Linked DNA regions of Homo sapiens. The protein of the gene in region 3 purifies or fractionates together with the protein of the main gene of each other region. This does not show direct contact. Each region holds a gene or a part of one and is shown on either strand. Other genes may lie near its edges.

Region 1 (5,691 bases), on a different chromosome or scaffold from region 3:
GGACCGACTTTGTTAAAGCACTGAACTAGCTTCCTTGGAGCCCCAAAGGGAGGGGCGGGACCTTCACTTCAGAAATAAGAAGACAGACTCAGAGAGGGTTTGTGGCTTTCCCAAAGATACCTCATTCCAGGATTTGAACCCCAGTCTCTCACTCGAGACCCCAGGTACTTGCTGTGGCCCATACCTTCCCCAAATTATCCACCAACAGCCAGTCAACCTGGGGCAGGGCTGTGGGGGAGAAACATTTGTTTACTAAATCACAGAGTCCCTCTGCCCGCTGGAGGGGAGAGGAGAATGCCACCAAGTGGGCGGGGGTGGGGCATTGCATCCCAGCATTTGAATGGGCAGGGAGGAAATGGGGCACAGGACTTCTAGAACTTGCAGTTTTGCTCATTCGGGCTGTCTAGGGAGGTGGTGACAGGGAGAGACTAAACTGAAATGTGCCTGTGACTTCCATCTCAGGAAGATGGAACATGTTCAACCCCAAGCCATGTTCGGGGTCTGTGGCAAGCAGGAATTCTCCTTTATTTTCCAATAGGGTTAACAATCTTTCCCAGGAAGAGCACGGAAGGTATTTTCTCGCTGTAAATCAGCAGCAGATAGGGTTTGTCTATCTTGACGACGAGTGGTGTCTCCATGGGCAGAGTCTGTGCTCCGGTGCCAGCGGCCCCTTCCGTACCCCTCTCATCCATCTTCAGCTCAGCCTTGTGCACAGCCTACGGAAGCCAAGGGCAAAGTCAAGGTCTGCCAAGCTCCTTGGCGACCACAGTGGGCCGGAGGCCCAGAGAGGATCAGAGAGGAAGACCACTTGGCCCAAGCCATCCAGCACAGCAGTAACTTGGTTTACTCCAGGGTTCCTGGCTCTTTCGCCATTAATGCTGGAGAATATTCGACAAGCAGATGCCGTGTGAAGGAAAAGATGGTGCAGGGGGAGCATCAGTTACGGGAGTCGGTGGGGGGAGAGATGGAGTGGGGTTTGCTTCTCTTTCTCATGGGTTACAGGGAAGCATCAACCATAGCCGTGGCAGAAAGGTCTACTGGGCTGTAGCTGGGTGAAAGTGAGGTGGTGGTACCCCCACCCTGAAGCCTCCAGCACCTCCTTTCATCCACCTGGTGGATGGTTAAGAGGGAGAAGGATTCTGGATTAGCTCTTTGAGATGACTTGCATCCCAAATCCACTCCAAAGGCATCAACGTCTGTAAACAGGTGATCAGTACTGGGAAACTAACGGGCATGTGTGAAATCCTGGCACATTTCTTGCTAGCCTACAAAATTCTCACAATTTTACTTGCAGAAAACAGGACAGTATCCTGTGTTACAATCACAGCTATCAGCAAACGTAACTACAGAAAGAAATGAGCCATTAAACTCAACAAGACCTTCAGAGCTGGTGTTAAATGTTTGTGGGAAGTCTGTGGCAGGAAAGCTCAAAAGTGAGAAAATTCTAGTAACTATGTTTCTTATGTCAACGTGAAAAATACAGTGGAATCTGTGCCATCTGATTCAGAGCAGCGGGCTCAGCTTGGCAAGCTGGATCCTTCCCAGACTGGCTTGAACCTCCCACTTTATCTCCACTAAGCACCCAATCCCCACCACCCACTACTCCATGATATCCAAAAACCCCCAGCCTTGGCCACACTGCTGCACCCATCCCCGCACCCATCTCTGCTTGTTGAAATCTTTCCCCTCCTTCAATGCCTTTTTAACCCCAAAGTAGGGTTGCCAGGTGAAATACAGGACATCCACTGAAATTTGAATTCAAGATAAACAATGAATATGTTTTAGTGTAAGTGTGTCCCGTGAAATATTCTGAACATACTGGCACTAAAAATATTATTCATCATTTATCTAAAATTCAAATTTAATTGGGTATCCTGTATGAAATCTGCTAAATCCGGTGACTCTACCTATATGGTGCTCTCTTCTTGCCCCAGACAGTCAGGTGCTCACCTTTGCCAGGGGCCACAGGCCCCTTTGCTTGGTCATCTCTTCCTATGCAGCATATGCTTATGCCAACTCATATGAAACATGTGGCCTTGGGCGCGGTGGCTCACGCCTGTAATCCCAGCACTTTGGGAGGCCAAGGTGGGTGGATGACCTGAGGTCAGGAGTTTGAGACCAGCCTGGCCAACATGGTGAAACCCTGTCTCTACTAAAAATACAAAAAAATTAGCCGGGCATGGTGGCGGGCGCCTGTAATCCCAGCTACTCGGGAGGCTGAGGCAGGAGAATTGCTTGAACCTGGGAGGTGGAGGTTGCAGTGAGCTGAGATCGCACCACTGTACTCCAGCCTGGGTGACAGTGCAAGACTCCTTCAAAAAACAAAATAAAAGAAAGAAAGGAAGGAAGGAAGGAAGAGAGAGAGAGAGAGAGAAAGAAAGAAAGAAAGAAAAAAAGAGAGAGAGAGACAGAGAAAGAAAAAGAAAGAAAGAGAGAAAGAGAGAGAGAAAGAGGAAAGAAAGAGAGAGAGAAAGAGAGAAAGAAAGAGAAAGAAAGAAAGAAAAGAAAGAAAGAAAGACGGATGTGGCCTTTGAGAGAGGGTCTGGGTTAGACCTAGACCAGTTCTAGGCCTGATAACTGTTCCAGGCCTTGATCAACGTTTGCTACATTGAATTGATTTCCAAAATAGCAGCAGTTTTAAAGACTGGAAGCATGAGGCTGGGGGAGGTTATGTGGTTTGCCCAGGATCACGGGGTTGGTAAGGGGCACAGCTGCATTCATGCCCGCCCCGACTGGTGGGTGGAGTCTCGGCTCTGACAGCCACTGTGACCCTGGCTCTGGCCCCGGCTGGGGGAAGGCCCCTGTGCTGCAGGGAGTGGAGTCCAGGCTAGGCAGGCTTACCTCGCCCACTTTCAGGCTGCGATGAGGGGCGATCTTGGTGAGATCACCATGTTCCTCAAAGATTTTGGAGACACCTATGTAGGAGAGAGTCTTCTTCAGGTCGAAGGTGCCCGTCATGTGGAGTCTGGGTACAGACACGTCTACGACCCTGGGGAATTGACACGACAAGGGTGAGTGGTCAAGTCCTGTTGTGTTGCAGGGCAAGCCTCAGGATACATGACCAATGAAACATGTGTCCTCCCAGCCCCAAAGGTCTCCAATCTCTCTCCATCCACAGAATGAGGAGGGGCTCCTTAACCCTGGGACCCTGGTTTCAAAACACCATAAGCTCTCTGAACCGTGTCCCTGCCTCCCAGCACACCTGCCCCAGAGCCCTCTACAGGGAGTGTTCTCAAGTCTCAAGTTCCCCCGTCTCAGAGCCCCTTCAGCCACAGTCACTGATGATGTCCACACTGTAGTCGCTGCCATGCCTGAGCCCTGAGCCCATCCTGACCCCAGAAGACCTGACACTGGAGGGAACAAGGCACCCAGAATCTGGAGGTAGACAGAACTGAGTTCAAATCCACTCTGCCTCTCATGAGCTCTGTGACCTTCCCTCTCTAAGTCACTTGTGTGAGAAGGAAAATGATCACCGTCGCTCCTGCGGGACACTAGGGGTGCTAAGGCAAATGCAGACAAGGCACTCAGCAGACAGTTGGTGCGTAGCAGGTGCCCATCCTCCTGCCCTCCAACTAGCAGCTTCACATCCTCTGTGGCTGAACCGCGATCAGCCTCCTGCCCGGAGCCTGGGGCCCAGGCTCTCCTGAGGTACCTGCAGACCCTGGATTCCCGTTCACCTGGCCTTGCACCCTATTTTCCCACCTACCCAAGGATCTCATTCCTGCCTATGTGTCCTCTCTCTCCTGCATCATCCTTAAACAGTGCCCCTTTGATCCTCCTCTGGAGGAGGCCTCATGCTAGAGTGACCCTATCCTCAAAAACTAACACCAAGAGATCTCTCTTGGCCCTGAATAGCCTCTCCAGCTTCCAGCTCATTTCTTTTCTTCCTTTTATAGCAGCTATCTCCACTCCCTCCCACAATTGCCTCAGTCCACTCCAGTCGGCTCTTTGACCTCAACTTTTTATGGAAGCAACTCTTTCCAGAGTCACCGTTGACAACCAGCCCCACGTCCCAGAGCCAGCTCTCAGTGAGCCGCACGTGATGGTAATCCCTTTCTCCAAGGTGAAGCATTCCAGGTCCACCCCTTGAGGCTTCTCCTCCTTCCCCACCACTCCTGCCCCTGTCGGGCTCCACCCCTCCCATCTCTACCGGTGACACTGCTGCTTCCAGGCTCAGACCTTGGTCCCCTTCTCTTTTCCACCTTCACTCCATCCCCATACATGTCATTCAGTCTCACAGCTTTGAATATCATCAACAGGCCCAACGACTCCCAAATTTACCTTTCCACTCATTCATTCACTCAACAAACATTTATTAAATCTCTACTGTATACCAGGTGCTGTTCTAGGTGCTGGAGATGCATCTATGAACAGAGCAGGCAAAGATCCCTGCCCCTGACTGTGTGTTCTAGCAGGGAAGACAGGTGATAGAATCAACACAACAAAAAGTACCACTTAAGCCTACATACATGTACTAGCGGTATGCAGAAGGCAGTAAGTGCTATGGAAAAAAATAAATAGATTGACTTGCAGGAATCGAGGATTGGTCCAAAGTTTGAGCAAACCTTGAGGCAGGCAAGAGAGTTAGACAAATTGGGGTTTTTTTTCCTGAATAAAATGGGGAGTCACTGTCGGGTTTTGAACAGAGGAGTGACATAGTCTTGCTTAGGATTTAAAAGGATCATTCTGTTGCCTCTGTTAAGAATATACTCTTGGTGGTGGTGGTGTGTGTAGTGGGGATGGGCAAAAATTGATGCTGGGAGACCATTTGGAAGCTAGTGTGGTAGTCACATGTTGGGAGCCACAGAGACGGCGGAAAGATACCAAATTCCAGATGTGGTTTGCTGTAGGCTAAAGGAGTTTCCTGACAGACTGAATGAGGCATTTGAGGGTGGTCAGGGTGACTCCAAGGTTTTTGGCTTGAGCAACTAAAAAGATGGAGTCACCACTGATTGAGATGGGCAGGCTTGGGGAGGTTCTCTGGGGACAGATCAGGAAGTCATTCTGGATGTGTTGACACTAAGCTCCAATTACACATCCTGGGGACATTCTGGGTAAACAGAAAGATCCACGACTCTGGAATTTGGGGGAGAACAGGGGCTGGGGATGGAAGCATGGCAGTCGTGGTAATAGAGATGGTGTTTAAAGCTCTTAGCCTGTGAGCTCACTCAGGGGTAAGTATAGACAGAAAAGAAGGCTGGGAACTGAGCCCTGAGACACTCACCTCTGAGACCTGGAGGAGGAGAGGGGTCTCCAGCAAAGGAGATTGAGGAGGGGAGAGGTGGGAGGTGATGTGAGAGTGGAGAGCTGGAAGCCAAATGAAGAGTGCCTTAAGGAGGTGGGGACAGAAACCAGCCGAAGAGCGAGGCCTGAGACTGACTGCACTCTGCAACACAGACACCCTTGGGACCCTGGGAAGGGAGCTTTCTGTGAGAAGTGGGTGCAGAAGCTGGACTGGAGTGGATTTAGGAGAGGATGAGAGGAACTAGGGGCTGTGAACAGAGGCAACTGCTTCATGGTATTCACCTGCAAAGGGGGAGTGACGAAATGGAGGAATAACTGGGGGAAAGCAGAGGTCAAGAGAAGCTTTTATGTTGGGAAAAATAATAGCATTGAGATTTCCTGCAGGCCAGCACAAGCCATACAGGCCTGCCTGCACAGAAGGCAGACACCTGCTTTGTCTTCTTGCAT
Region 2 (7,140 bases), on a different chromosome or scaffold from region 3:
TTTAGTTCCTGGGGTCTTATTAGTACCAGGGTCATGAAAGCCTTTAGTGTTGGCCTCAGGTGGTAGACATGTGACTGGTAGACTAACAGCACCCTATTTTTAGTGTTGGTTTCTATCAATATATCTTGAAATGTGGCTTTGATTACTATTCTCCCTAGTGCTTCAAAAATATCCCTTTATTTTCTTTCAAAACCACTTACATTAGAAATGCCCTCAACCCCTTGAGCCACTAGGAATCCAGAGAAAACAGGAGTCAAAAGCAGATGAAGCAGAAAATGATCTCTTTATTGGAAGTTTGAAGGCGCTTCAGGTTAGGAAAGCCTAATTCAAGGAAGCATGGGCAGGTGGTGTCATCCATGGACCAAGAATCTGAAACTACACGGGAGTCTGCATCTCAGAAACATCACAGAATTCACTGAGGTCAACTGACACCTAGAGAGAAAGAAGAGAATCAGTGATGTGAGTATAGTAAAAAGTGAAGGGTGGGGATGGTAGCTGGGCCCCCTGTCCCCTTCAGCTCCAACTGTACCAGCCCTCTACTACTAGGATACCAGGCCACTAGTTGCCAGCTGGGGCCACTGTTTCTACTGCTTGCCCTCTCTTCAAGTGCAGTGTTACTTACTGCAAAGAGGCAGGGAAGCACCATTACCCCTCTCAGGGCTTCAGTTTTCTTCTCCTGATGTTGTAAACACCCAATTGGCCCATGAGATCCCTCACCATCTCTTGTGTCTCCCTTTCCATCTTCTCTTTCACAACATGAACAAGGATCTTTCTACATATCTCTTTCCTGTATTCTGAGAGGGAGGACTGATAGTCTTTGGGCTTGTGGTCTCTGAAGGAGCATAGATGAACCCTAACAGGGATGCAAGAACATTCACTGGTGTGCAGAAAGAAAACATTAATGGCTGTAATCCTTTATACTATATAGGAAAGAAACTGAGGTTTACTAATCTAAAGTATAAGAACTGACAAGAGTATACCATAAACTTATAAATATGCATATGTAGTCAGTACCTGTTCAAAAAAACCTTTAGCAGGTAGGCATATACAAAAAAATATTATTGAAGAATATTCAATTAAGGATAGGAATTCTAGGACCTCATGATAGGCCAAACATCCTTCTGTGCCACTACCAGACCCTCTCCTCACCAGGGAATGGGGAGGCTCATCTTCCTACCACTTGTTATACAGCACTTCTATTGGTGCGAACAATGGTTATCAATCCCACAAAAGTCCTGGAGAGTCCCCAACAATTCTAAACAATGAGAGAGATATCTCCCCTATTTGCTAAAAAAAAATTACCTTGATATTGGTCCATCCTTTCACATGGTTACCGAATGGTAGGTTTATGTAAATAATGGGTTTCGGTCGTTGTTAAGATGTTGTGCCAAATGACGATCACTGTCATCTTCCTGCTCTATAATTACAATATCCAATCCCCCATGAGATCCATGTTGGTGTCTGCCTTTTTGTTCATGACTGAGTAGGTCTTGTTCTCTATTTGTAGATTGGCCAGACTCTCCTTTTGCATTTTCACCATGCCATGGCTCTTGCTTAGGATTTGGTGCCTGGATTTGAGACTTGCCTGCTACTAGCTTTTCAGTTTGGCTATAAATACTGCGTTGGGATACATCTTTCTGCACACCATTTTCTCCATAGTGGAGTCGTCTTTCTTCCGTACTTGAAGATTGGTATGATATTTTATTTGCCTTTTGGCTATGCTCTTGCTCTTGACTGGGAATTGTTATCTGTTTTTGAGACTTGCCCTGTGCTTTCTCTTCAGTTTGGCTATAAATACTGCTTTGGGATACATCTTTCTGCACACCATTTTCTCCATAGTGGAGTCGTCTTTCTTCTGTACTTGAAGATTGGTATGATATTTTATTTGCCTTTCGGCCATGCTGTTGATCTTGATTGAGATTTTTTGTCTGGTGTTGATTCTTGTTATATACTAGGAGCTCATCTTGGGTAGAAAAAATGTCTTTGGATCCATGTTGGAGTTTGTCTTGGTGCGCAGGACAGAGTGAGGTTTGTACTTTACTTGAATGTTCCTCTCTCACTTCAACCACATTTTGGTAATGCCCTTTATTTTGATGAGAATTTTTAGTCTCACGTTGTTGTTTGTTAGCTACTAGCTCTTCAGTTTGGAGAACATAACTGCTTTGGGATCCGCCTTGTTTTCTACCTTTTTGTGCACCAGAGACGGAAGTTTGTTCTTTACTTAGTCCATGAACCCACAGCCTTTCTTCTGTGTTTGAATATTGACTGGATATTCCCTTTCCAGATGGGCTATTCCCCTGATCTTGAGAAGGATTTTGTGTCCCACGATGAGCTTTGCCTCCTTTATGGTGTATAACTACCCTGTGAAAATGACCTTTTGATTTATCATGGTCTCTGCCTTCTTGTTTATTATGGAGCAGTTGTTGACTTCCACCTAGATGTCGTTGTGATTTTGTCGTCTTATGTAGGGCATTCAAATCATATTGCTGACTTTTTCGGGACTGGTCATGATCATTGGCATCTACATGATATGTGTATTGAATAGAAAAACTGCCTTTGGATTCAGTTTGTTGCTTGCCTTTTTGTCCAGAATAGTGCTGGCCCTTTTGTCCGTGTGGAAATTGGGAAAATTCACTTGGTAATCGGCCTTTTGATCCACCTGGTAATTGATAATAAGAAGGTATGCATTCATTATCTCCAAAGCTCCCTTACAACTCTTACCCCCCACTTTTCCCCCAACAAATTATTGATATTTCTAGAAAAGCTGAAGCTTTGGGTGGAGAAAATCAATTCTCTTCAAAGAGAAGAATCTGTGCCTAAACAGGTTACTGTTTGCACCCCAAATAATCTTAGATTATTAGCTGTCTGAGCAGCTTTCCCCAAGGCTTACCCTCTCCACTCACCTTTTTGTCCCATCACAGCTGCTTGCTTCTCCAAGATGAGGAGCAGGGAAAGTACAAAGATGATGTTGGGCTTCATCTTGCTTGGAAAACCTTGTCTGAGAGCTGAGCCGACCTTGTCATTTATATCTTCCTTGAGTGAGTGTGCCATGGGTGGAGCTTAAATTACAAAAGGCACTGACTTTTCTTAGCTTATCAGTAAATGCCAACTTCCTCACCCCTGCTGAGTGTGGGACAAAGTCAATGTCCCCAGCAACATAATGTCAAAGGCATTTTCTTTCTTCTGGCAGCCCCAGCAAATTTTTATCAGTCCTTTTAGATCATCATGCCAGATCACTTTAATTTTACAGAATTATAGACAAAAGTAGGAAAGAGACTGGCTTCAGGCTACAAAAGCAATTGGTTTCTGAGAATGCCTTTATATTCTAAATGTGAGTTTCCCTTCATGATGCAATAATTTAAATACTCTATTTTAGATAGAACTCCATACTTCCTTTTGTTTTAAAAATGATCTTGAGACACGTTCTATTTTACCTAAGAATGAGCAATCATAGAAGTCCAATGATATAGAAGATAATGAAACGTTATGGAATCCAAAGAAAGAAATTTTAAACAAGTAAATGGGGCACTCCAATGTCAAATATGTCTGTCAAGTTCAACACAATAAAGACTGACATGTATCCAAAGTTTTTCTTAGTTGTTGCTAGTAACTTTAATGAGAGATGAATACAATTGCATTGGGTTGTCAGTTGAAGGATGGAGACCAGCTGCAACCTTCTCAGGAAGTCTGAATTCATGGTGGAGTGAGAGCTGAGGCTGTATCTGGAGGGTGAGGTAAGTTCCAGATGTGTTTTCAAAGGATGAAAGAATTTTAATATGCTTTCATGGTGATAGGAACAACTGTTGGAAAAAAAGTAAAAATGCTGGTTTCTAGATTGGGTTCTTTTCATGAAATCTACCTAAACAGCAGAATTTTCTTTTTAATTAAGAGAAGTTTCTACTTCAGTAGTAAACAGCTGAATCCCCAAACAGGCTGTGAGAAATATTTGCCACCATCAATGAATTGAATAATGTATTGTGAGTGGACATGAAGCTAAAATTCCCACCTTTGGTAGAAGCATAGATTTTTCCAATTGTGATGACATCCTGAAAAGTCTGAAGAAACTTTCTTTACTTTGAGTCATAAAGACTTCGTTATGAGCAGACCACAGGAGAAGAAGAAAGCATCCCAACAGTGTCCCTGTGTACATTCAGAACACCTTGGAGGGTAGTGCTGGGGAAAGGATAGCTTGAAAACTTATTTTCAATTATTCTGTCTTAGAATCTTAACCTTCCTGTAGGCAATGCTCTATGGAAGGGGAAAAGAGAAAGGCCAACCACAGAAAAAAAGTGCTATGCTATCAAACATAAATCATGTGAGCTGCATGGTTTCTCTATGAGCCACTCTGAGATCTTACCAAATTTATCTGTTTGCCTCAAAGGCAGTAAGTAGTTCCTTATTGCAGAAACCCCAACAGAGTAAGGTGATATTGTTCTGAACTAAAATTGATTACTGTGTCTGCTAACCACTGTAATCTTCCTCACACTTCCCTTAAGAAAATACCAGAAACTGTTCTGTTCCAAACTTACTGATACAAAATAGAGTCTGAAATATTAATCTTACTTATGGATCAAGAACAAAACTTTCATCTCATCTAGTGTCCAAAAGATGCAGATAAAACAAAAGGGCACAATATTTGCAAAAACAAACCAGGAAAATGCAATCCAAGCAAAACATGTGATTACTATATTCATATTAGAATTGAATTCAATGAAATGTGGAAAAAAACATTTCCAAATGATAAAGGAATGTATTGATAAAGTTGAAATCAGAAATCAGTGATTTGGAAAGCATAAAAATGGTATGGTGATGCATACATCTTAGATATGGAATTATGATGGGGGAAAAGATTAAGTGATCAAATGATTTGTCCTGTTGGACAAATAAAAAATGCAAAAATATTAAAGTGCACTAAATTGGCACAAAAATCTGAAAGTTTTATACTCATAGGAAAAGAAGAAAACAGGAGGACTTAAATGTATTTTGCTCAATTCTATGGGAAATCACTTTACAACTTAGAAAAGATTCAAATATAGTTATTTTTGGGGAATGGGCAGAAAAACCTGGTAGAGTAGGACTCCCCAGAGATTATACCCTCCAAAACGTCGAATTTAATAATTATCCACATATGATAATAGTTTCTCAAAAGCTAAACAGGCCAGATGAGATATTACAGAACCTGATTATAGTATAATAATTAAAAATACACATTGAAGAGGGCACGAAAGACAATTTTGTTTCCTGTATCACCCCTAACCCAATCACAGGCAGCACAGTGCAGAGAGAGCTACTTTCTTTTGGGGGGAAGGGAATGAAGTAAGGCTTGGACTTTTTCACGGAACAAAATACTAGTCTATAATAGTAAAATTCAGCACTGGGAGGACACCCATAGTGACCCTGCTTGAATACCTGTGGCCTAAGCAGCAAGACCTGCCCCAGCAGCAGAGAGGAACACATAGTTCCTGTGAGATAGACTTGCGTTCTTACCTGTACCACTGGCAGCCAACTACAGCAGCCTTGGATTATGAATAACCAACATACGTAGGCAGGTATCAGTGAGGAGGAGTTGGGAATGCATTCCATCATTGTGCCAGCCTCTGCAGCCATGGGTTACAGCCTGGTGCAGAACTGGCCATGGTGGTCCTGGGTTTATGACATCTCCTTGTGCTGCAATGACTGAAACAGTCACAGGCTTACAAACCTAGAACAGATGATCTGCCTAGAATTTCCGGACAGAGTTGAGGGACATTCTCAGACAAAGCCAAACTGGAGTAAGTACCTACCTTAAATTCAATATCTGCATTCAAGTACCTACCTGCAATTCAATAAGTACCTACTTCTTCAATGTGCAGACATCAATGCACAATCACAAGGATCAAGAACAATCGGGGAAAACTGATGACACCAAATTAACAAAATAAGGTACCAAATGAACAAAATAAGATACCATTGATTGGCCCCAAAGACATGGAGATGTATGACCTGCCTGAAAGAGAATTTAAAATGGCTGTTCTAAGGAAGCTCAAAGAACTTTAATAAAATACAGATAAATAATTAAATGAAATGATGAAAACAATAAGTGACCAGAAAGAGAGATGTAACAAAGGGTAAAAATGATAACATTTAATATCTAATGTTAATATAGGAGCTGAAGAATGCAATGAATAAAATGAAAAGTGTGAAAAGTGCAATAGAGTGCATTAACACCAGAAATGATCAAGCAGAAGGAATAATCTGTGAGCTTGAATACAGGTTATTTGACAATATATACTCAGAAAAGGAAAAAAGAAAAAAGAATAGAATGAAGGAAACTTATGAGATGTATGGAATAGCATTAAGTGAGCAAAGGGACAATTTACTGGCATTCAAGAGAAGTTAGAGAAAGATAAATGGAAAAGTAAAGAAAGCTTATTAAATAAGTAATAACAGAAAACTTTCCAAATCTGAGGAGTTCATATATATATATATATATATATATATATATATATATATACACACACACACACACACACATATATACACCCATATATATACATATACATATATACATATATATTATATATATATGTATGTGTCTATTATATATATATATATGTAGTCAAAGTGCAGGATGGTCAACAGTCACCAATCACATTCAATTCAAAAAAGACTAGACATATAATAATTAAACTGTGAAAGATCAAAGACAAATAAATGATACTGAAGCAGCAAAAGAAAAGAAGCAAATAAAATGCAAAACAGTTCCAATACACTTCACATCAGACCTTTTTTTTCTTTTTCAACTGTTATTTTACATTCAGGGGCCAAGTGTGCAAATTTGTTACCTGGGTATATTGCATGATGCTGAAGCTCGGGGTATGAATTTTCCTGTCATTCTGATACTGACTATAATACCCAACATTTAGTTTTTCAACCCTTGTCCCCTTCCCTCCCTCCTTCTCTCCTCTAGTAGTCTTCAGTGTGTATTATTTCCATCTTTATGTTCATGAGTATCTGACATTTAGCTCCCCTCTATAACTGAGAACATGTGGTATATAGTTTTCTCTTCCTGCATTAATCTACTTAGGATAATGGCCTCCCACTGCATCCATGTTGCTGCAAATGCATGATTTTATTTATTTTTTATGACTGTGTAGTATT
Region 3 (7,118 bases):
TAATCAAATGGTGTTTGAGGAGATAATCTTATGAAAAGATGAAAATCATTTGTTTGAAAGTGTATTTTCTTTACTAGAAAAAATTTTTTTTCCCAATGATTAGCATAAAAATGTAAAATTACTGCATTTTATTTTTAGACCAGGAAGCTAAAAATTGCTCTGGCCTTATCTGATCTTGTCATTTATACGAAAGCTGAGAAATTCAAAAGCTTTCAACATTCAAGATTATATCAGCAATTTAATGAAAATAATTCTATTGGGGAGACACAAGCCCGAAAACTTTCAAAATTGCGAGGTAAATTTTTGTGACTCAAATAGATGAAATGTTTAAATGAGTTAGATTCACTGCTAGGGTGTTAAGATTGCTCAATGATATTTATAAAATGTATATTCTCATAAAATTTCAACACATTTAACATAATTTAGAATGGGGTTACATACCTCAGGTCTCATTAAGTTTTATTTCATGGAACTTAGCCATTAATTAACTTTCCTAAGCCATGACATTTTGATTGAGAATGTCCGATGTGGCCACATTTGTTGAGGGCTGGGGGGCTGTGGTGAGCAGCTTGTATAGGAGAGCAGTGACAGGGCTGCAGAGGGAGGCAGAGCCGAATTAGAAGGCTTGAACTTTGTCCTGGAAGCGAAGGTGCGCAGGAGAAGATTGAACTCTCAGGAGTGGCATGATCCACTCTATTTCTAAACGATACCTCTGATAGCAGCCAAAGGGTGAGATTGCAGGCAGGAAGGCGGTAATAAAGATTTCTGGCAGTGAGAGTGGAGACAGGATGAACTTTGTGGATTTAATAGGCATTGAAGAGGGTAGGGTTAATCAGACTTGGAGGCTCTATGCCTATGGTGAAGGAAGGGGAAGAAATGGCGCCCAGGCTGGACTACCAGATGGCTGTGCAGAGTGTGCATGCCCCACTGCACACCTGTAGAGGTGCCATCTGTCTCTGCATCTTCCTTTCACTGCCTCTAATTCTAAAACTGAGGTGGTTATTCTGTTTGGCAGTGCCCAAGGTAAAACGGGGCCTGAGAAAGAGAATAGAAAGAAGACTCATTATGTGGGGAATGTCCCAAACTTAAAAGGGAATGAGCAACTAACTTAAGAGCCAGGTGACTCTGCTAATCCTCAAAAAATGGCAGTTTTTTTTAGTAGCAGGGGTATGGGGGAAGTAAGGACAATAATGGATACAAAACTATAGTTAGAATGAATAAGACATAGTATTTGATAGTGCAACAGGTGACTACAGTCAACAATAGTTTATTGTACATTTAAAAATAACTAAAAGAGTATAATTGGATTGTTTGTTACACAAAGGATAAATGCTTGGGGTGATGGATACACCACTTATCCTGATGTGTTACTAGACATTGTATATCTTTGTCAAAATATCTCGTGTACTCCATAAATATATTTATCTATGTACCCACAAAAATTAAAAGTTAAAAAAATGCAATCTACCATCTTGTGTAGAAATACCACAGAAGGAAAATCAGCACCTGCAATTGACTTGAGAAAAGCTGCTGGCTGTTTGGGAATGCGGATTCTGAAAGCTTTAATGATTAACCTTATTGGGCTGGTCATAGATACCCAAAGATTTTGAAGTATACTTTAGTTCATATTCTCTAACTATCTATTAGAGAGATCCTGGATTTTTTAAAGGCTCTTTTCCTTTTTTAACCTGTGTGTTGTAACCAAAAATCAATTCAGTAGGTCTGGACTACAGTTAAATAATAGAATAGAATAGAGTAGTATAGAGTAGAATGGAATGGGATGGAATGGAATGGAATGGAGTAGAATAGAATAGAATAGAATAGAATAGAATAGAATAGAATAGAAGAAAAGTGTATTGCAAGCAGTAATAATAAATATGGTTTTATGAAGCAATTGTGCATCGTGCATGTGAGTTGGATTGTAAAATGTATTTCTTGCTGTAAGGTGTGGTTAAGAGAGTTTGAATGACATGCTTTACTGGTCTCTGTTCCTTCATGTTGTTCATGAGGACAGGTCCTCATGTTGTTCATGAGGACAGGACCTGTAGGCACAGCATAAATTAATTATAATTGTATTACTCTCATCATATTAAATACTTGCAAAAATTTTGGAAAGGAATTAGATAGTTCTGAGTAGAGTCAAAGTATAACATTACCATTTCTTTGAAGGGGCATAGAGCATTTTTCTTGCACCAAAAGTTATAGTAAATAATCAATGATGTCTGCAAAGGTTTAACTTCAAGGATGCCAATTATTATTATAAACATAATGAAAATCATTAAAAAATAATGTTGTAGATGAATATTATTGAAATGAAATGATGTTCACATTATTATAGTAAATAAAGATAACGGTTTGTGAAAGGGAACAAACATTATCATTCAACTAAAAATTATACACATACAAAAGAATGGGAAGATATATGTGAAGGAGTTATCAGTGGTTATCAGTTGAATGATGACATATGGTTTGATTTGTTCTTTGATGTCCTCCTATTTTACAGTAAACATGAACTGTATTTGTAATAACAAACATGTTTATTTTCTAAAGGTTAATCTCAGAAATAACAAAATCATATTATGTTATGAGACCTTAGTCATCATTCACATTTATTACTTTGTAAATGAGAAACATTAAGACTCAGAAGAGTATGTGTTTTGCCTAAGGACAGACATCTGTTAGGACTAGATAAGGGAGCATGATACTTGGACACCTATGCTGTATTTATACACACATGGTTTCAAAATAAACTTTCTCTCAAGGAATGTGTAACTTTTGAAAATAAATATTGATAAAATTAACTGTAATTTTTAATTTGACAATGCTTCCTAAATAATAGTATTTAGGATGAAGGGAGAGGTGATTCTATTCTAGTTGGTTTAGCAAATGAAGTGAGCCATAAGCAGTAACCATTCTCCCATGATGAGTCACTATATCAGCAGGAATGGTTGCAGAAACAGGATCTGTTTAATGAAAAAAGAAAATCCTTGGAGAAGCATGAAATTTGTGTTCAAAAATTTGAAGAAGGTGCCAAATGGTAAAGGGTTTAAGTTAGTTTGAATCTCAAGTGACTTAAATATTATATAGACAAGAAGAAACACAAAGAATATGTACAGAAACTAAAATAGACTGTGTGTGTATGTTTGTTCCTGTTTGTGTGTATACTACAAATACGTAGAGATTATCCCAGTAAGAACGACATTTGAAATAATTAAAAGCATTGAAAGTTTTTCAATGGAGACATGTAAACACAGATTGAATAAACTTTGGGGGAAGATGCTGGAGTGAAGGGATTGGAAGTCGAACTGGACAACTTTGGGGTGCCTTTCAACCCTGAGAACCTGTGAAATGTTCAGTAGGATTAATTTAGCTGGAATCGTATAGCTTTGTGTGACTTCCATATGATTCTGCCCTACTGTGAAAATCAAAGTGGAAAAATAATAAGGGAAAATGCTGCTTTTGTTTTGAAAAATGAATGGATTATATTTTGGAGTTTTATGTATTCTTACAACAAAGTGAAATAATTTGGGTGTAAAAAATATATAAATTATCTAATCAATTTTTTCCTTGAATGATCAGTGTACATACATTTTATGATAAAATTGTCACTAACATCTAAATAATAGTGAATTATACTATAAACATAAAGGCATGGATTTATTTTGATATTCATGAATTGCAAATTTTTGCCAAGACAATACATATCAAAATTGTTGAAACTATTATAGAATTATATGATATATATATATATATATATATATATATAGTGGCTTTTTAAATTTATTTGAATTCTTTCACAATGTTTTAATTATTCTTTTTCAGTCCATGAGTTTATTTTTCACACCAGGAAGTTCATTACCAGAATATATCCCAAAGCAACAAGAGCAGACTCTTCTAATTTTAATCCCCAAGAATTTTGGAATATAGGTTGTCAAATGGGTATGTTATATACGATATTGAGTTGTTTGCAGAAGTAACATAAAATGAATTCATTTTATGAATGTATGAAAAACTCGTGAAAAGGGCTTTCTGTAAAAGATTTTTTAGCCCGGGGGCTTTGGGGTCAGGCACTAATGGTGGGTCATGTGTTGTAAGAGTTGAAGTCATTCCTATCTGGGTTGAAGCGGGGTAAATCTCAGTGATGGTTTGGGGAATGGTGGTTAAATTCACGAGGAGTTAATATGAGACATGTGTAGTGGAGGAAGGGAACAAGGAAACCCAAATGGACATTGAAGATCAAATTCCTTTGCTTGAGGTATGCTCAAGGCCTCTTCAAATCAAGTGACCTCTATCATTTATACTTTACATGAGCTTCTACATTCATAGTTTTGAAAAGTGAATAAGATTGCCTAACTTGGTTATTTGCCCTCACCAGACTCTTATTCCAAATTGAACAGCTAGTACAGCACTGCACTAACCCATCAGAAAGTACCAGGTGTTACCCTTCTACTGGATTGTGGCAAGGCCTGTAGGTGTGAGGAGGGGGGATATTGGGGCTGGGTGGAGGGTGGAGTGTGGTACTCTCTACAGTGGCTATTTACCAGGCTATACTGAGGTACTTCCATATTGTAACGACAATTATTGCTTTGCCTGTTTCTCACTTTCTCCTCAAGTGACAACAGCATCTCATGGACTTGAAAATTTATGACATAGTTGATGTCTTTACCTCTTGCATTCAATGCACTGATACTCTTTATTCTGACATTTCTTAAGTGTTACCTGACATGAACATTGTTATTCTGTAATCTGTACTGGATACCATTTTGATTTCTTTACTCAAAGCTGTGTAGTAATTTACTTACAGATTAAACTTTGCAACTCATCAATATACATTAATATAGACATGGCAGGAGAAAGAGTTTTAAAAATCATGAATTATTAGGCTAATGATACTTGCTCATAGAACATTTGGGGACATAGAATCCATTATTAGATTTCAGTAAGTGGTTTGTGTTCCTTTATTTGTATTCTCTATTACCTGACAATGTCAAAATACTTCTTTCTTACAGTGGCTTTAAATTTCCAGACCCCTGGTCTGCCCATGGATCTGCAAAATGGGAAATTTTTGGATAATGGTGGTTCTGGATATATTTTGAAACCACATTTCTTAAGAGAGAGTAAATCATACTTTAACCCAAGTAACATAAAAGAGGGTATGCCAATTACACTTACAATAAGGGTAAGATTAATAAATTTTCTTTTACATTTTTTGGTTATTATATAAACTAGATAGTGTACATTAGTATTTTGAATTCCACTGATTTGCTTCAATTTCTTTTAAATTTCTGTTAATCTTTTCAGGTACTATATGTGGGTAGTATTCCAGCATCCTTCTATATCTGAAAAATGTCTTCCTGTTGTAATTTTACATGAATGATTATCTGCCTGTGAATTGACATATTGAGGCTAAAACCTTCTCCTCTCAAAGTTCTACTATATGATTTCATTGTATTTAGGCATTTAATATTGTGAGATACAGGTCTCAGTTCAGCCCACTAATTACTTTGTGGGCATGTTACTTTTTCTCGCCTTTGATGAATTTTACCTGGAAATTTTAGGAGCCCTTTTCTTTTCCTCAGTCTCCACAATTAGGCTTTTGTAGGTCAGGATTCTTCCCCCCATATGTCTGTGAATATCATTTGATTACTTAAAAAGAAAAATTATCCATATGTCTTTCTCCAGTATCTGTCTTCAGTGTCTGTTAATTTGTGTCAACTTTAACATATTCCCTTTTCCTCTGCATGTTGGGAGAGCTTTTTTGTTTGTTTGTTTGTGAAAGAGCGCGCTTTATTGGGAAGCAGACTGCTGCACAGTGACCAACAGACAGGCCACCCAGTGGGCACTTACACATCGTACTCCAAAAGACACAGGATGTTTTGCTAATAAAAATCAATGGGAACAGAGATTCCTCTGGGCAACTCCCCCAGCCTCATCCCTTTCAGGGACTGAGAAATCACCCAACCATTTTCCTGATGGCAGCCGTAGTTCACTAGAGATACAGCCCCTCAGGGGTGTCTTCCTGTTTCTTATAAAGAACATTTTCTTTAGATTTTTTGAAGTCTTCATTTGTTACTTTCATTCTACGTTCTCTTAAGGCCATCAGACCAGCTTCTGTACAGACTGCCTTGATGTCAGCACCAGAGAGGTCATCTTTAGCCATGATCAAGTCGTGCAGGGTTACATCATCAGCCAGCGTCATCCTGCTTGTGTGAATCTGAAAGATGGGCTTCTTCGTCTTTTCATCAGGCAGGGGGAACTCAATCTTCCTGCCAATGCGGCCTGGTCTGATAAGCGCTGGATCCAAAGTTTCTATTTGGTTTGTGGCCATGATAGCTTTCACATCTACCCTAGAATCAAATCCATCCAACTGGTTCAGCAGTTCCAACGTTGTTCGCTGAATTTCTCTCTCACCACCAGAATTGGAGTCATATCTTTTTGTCCCAATGGCGTCAATTTCATCAATAAACACAATGGACGGTGCACGTTCTTCAGCAACTCGAAACAATTCCCGTCCGAGTTTGGGCCCATCACCTAGGTACTTCTGAATAAGTTCAGAGCCAACCACTCTCAAGAAAGTGGCTGAGGTTTGGTTTGCTACTGCTTTGGCTAACAAGGTTTTACCTGTGCCAGGTGGACCACAGAGAATGACCCCCTTGGAGGCTTTATACCCATCTCTTCATAATATTCAGGATGGGTGAGAGGAAGCTCCACAGATTCCTTAATTTCCCGAATTTGGTTGTCCAACCCCCCAGTATCTGCATAGGTCTCTTGGGGGGCCTTTTCCACCTTCATCACTGTGACCAGGGGATCCATGTCATCCATCAGCACCCCTATCATGGTATGCACCTTGTGGTTGAGCCTGACCGAGCAGCCAGGTTCCAGAAGATCCTTGTCTGCAAATGAAAGAATGCTGATGTAGTGTTCTGAGCCCACAGATGTAGACACGATGGCATGATTGTCATCAATGATCTCTTCCAAGATTCCTACTGACATTGGGGTCCCCCTCAGATCATCCACTTTTGATCTTTTCCCTTCTTGCTTTTCTTCTAATGGTTTCATTTGTTCCTGATTTCTAATGAATTCTTCCTCCATGAGAAGATAGTCTTTAATTCTCTCTA

Evidence for each region. Proteins that work in one complex are often made in the same cells at the same time.
Region 1: the proteins of PLCZ1 (region 3) and SERPINA12 purify together in Homo sapiens (affinity purification with mass spectrometry; 3 studies listed by BioGRID and IntAct, with this or other methods). This does not show direct contact.
Region 2: the proteins of PLCZ1 (region 3) and SEMG1 purify together in Homo sapiens (affinity purification with mass spectrometry; 3 studies listed by BioGRID and IntAct, with this or other methods). This does not show direct contact.

Annotation. Positions count from the first base shown.
Region 1 is NC_000014.9:94,486,779-94,492,469, forward strand, and holds the end of SERPINA12 (serpin A12 precursor), read right to left. Parts: intron 2,990-5,691; coding exon 2,842-2,989; intron 717-2,841; coding exon 525-716; 3' UTR 501-524; downstream 1-500. UniProt on the Homo sapiens protein: Adipokine that modulates insulin action by specifically inhibiting its target protease KLK7 in white adipose tissues.
Region 2 is NC_000020.11:45,202,893-45,210,032, reverse strand, and holds SEMG1 (semenogelin-1 preproprotein), read right to left. Parts: upstream 3,001-7,140; 5' UTR 2,980-3,000; coding exon 2,904-2,979; intron 2,660-2,903; coding exon 1,347-2,659; 3' UTR 1,303-1,346; intron 433-1,302; 3' UTR 265-432; downstream 1-264. UniProt on the Homo sapiens protein: Predominant protein in semen. It participates in the formation of a gel matrix entrapping the accessory gland secretions and ejaculated spermatozoa.
Region 3 is NC_000012.12:18,692,971-18,700,088, reverse strand, and holds part of PLCZ1 (1-phosphatidylinositol 4,5-bisphosphate phosphodiesterase zeta-1), read left to right. Parts: intron 1-138; coding exon 139-295; intron 296-3,822; coding exon 3,823-3,939; intron 3,940-5,009; coding exon 5,010-5,179; intron 5,180-7,118. UniProt on the Homo sapiens protein: The production of the second messenger molecules diacylglycerol (DAG) and inositol 1,4,5-trisphosphate (IP3) is mediated by activated phosphatidylinositol-specific phospholipase C enzymes. In vitro, hydrolyzes PtdIns(4,5)P2 in a Ca(2+)-dependent manner.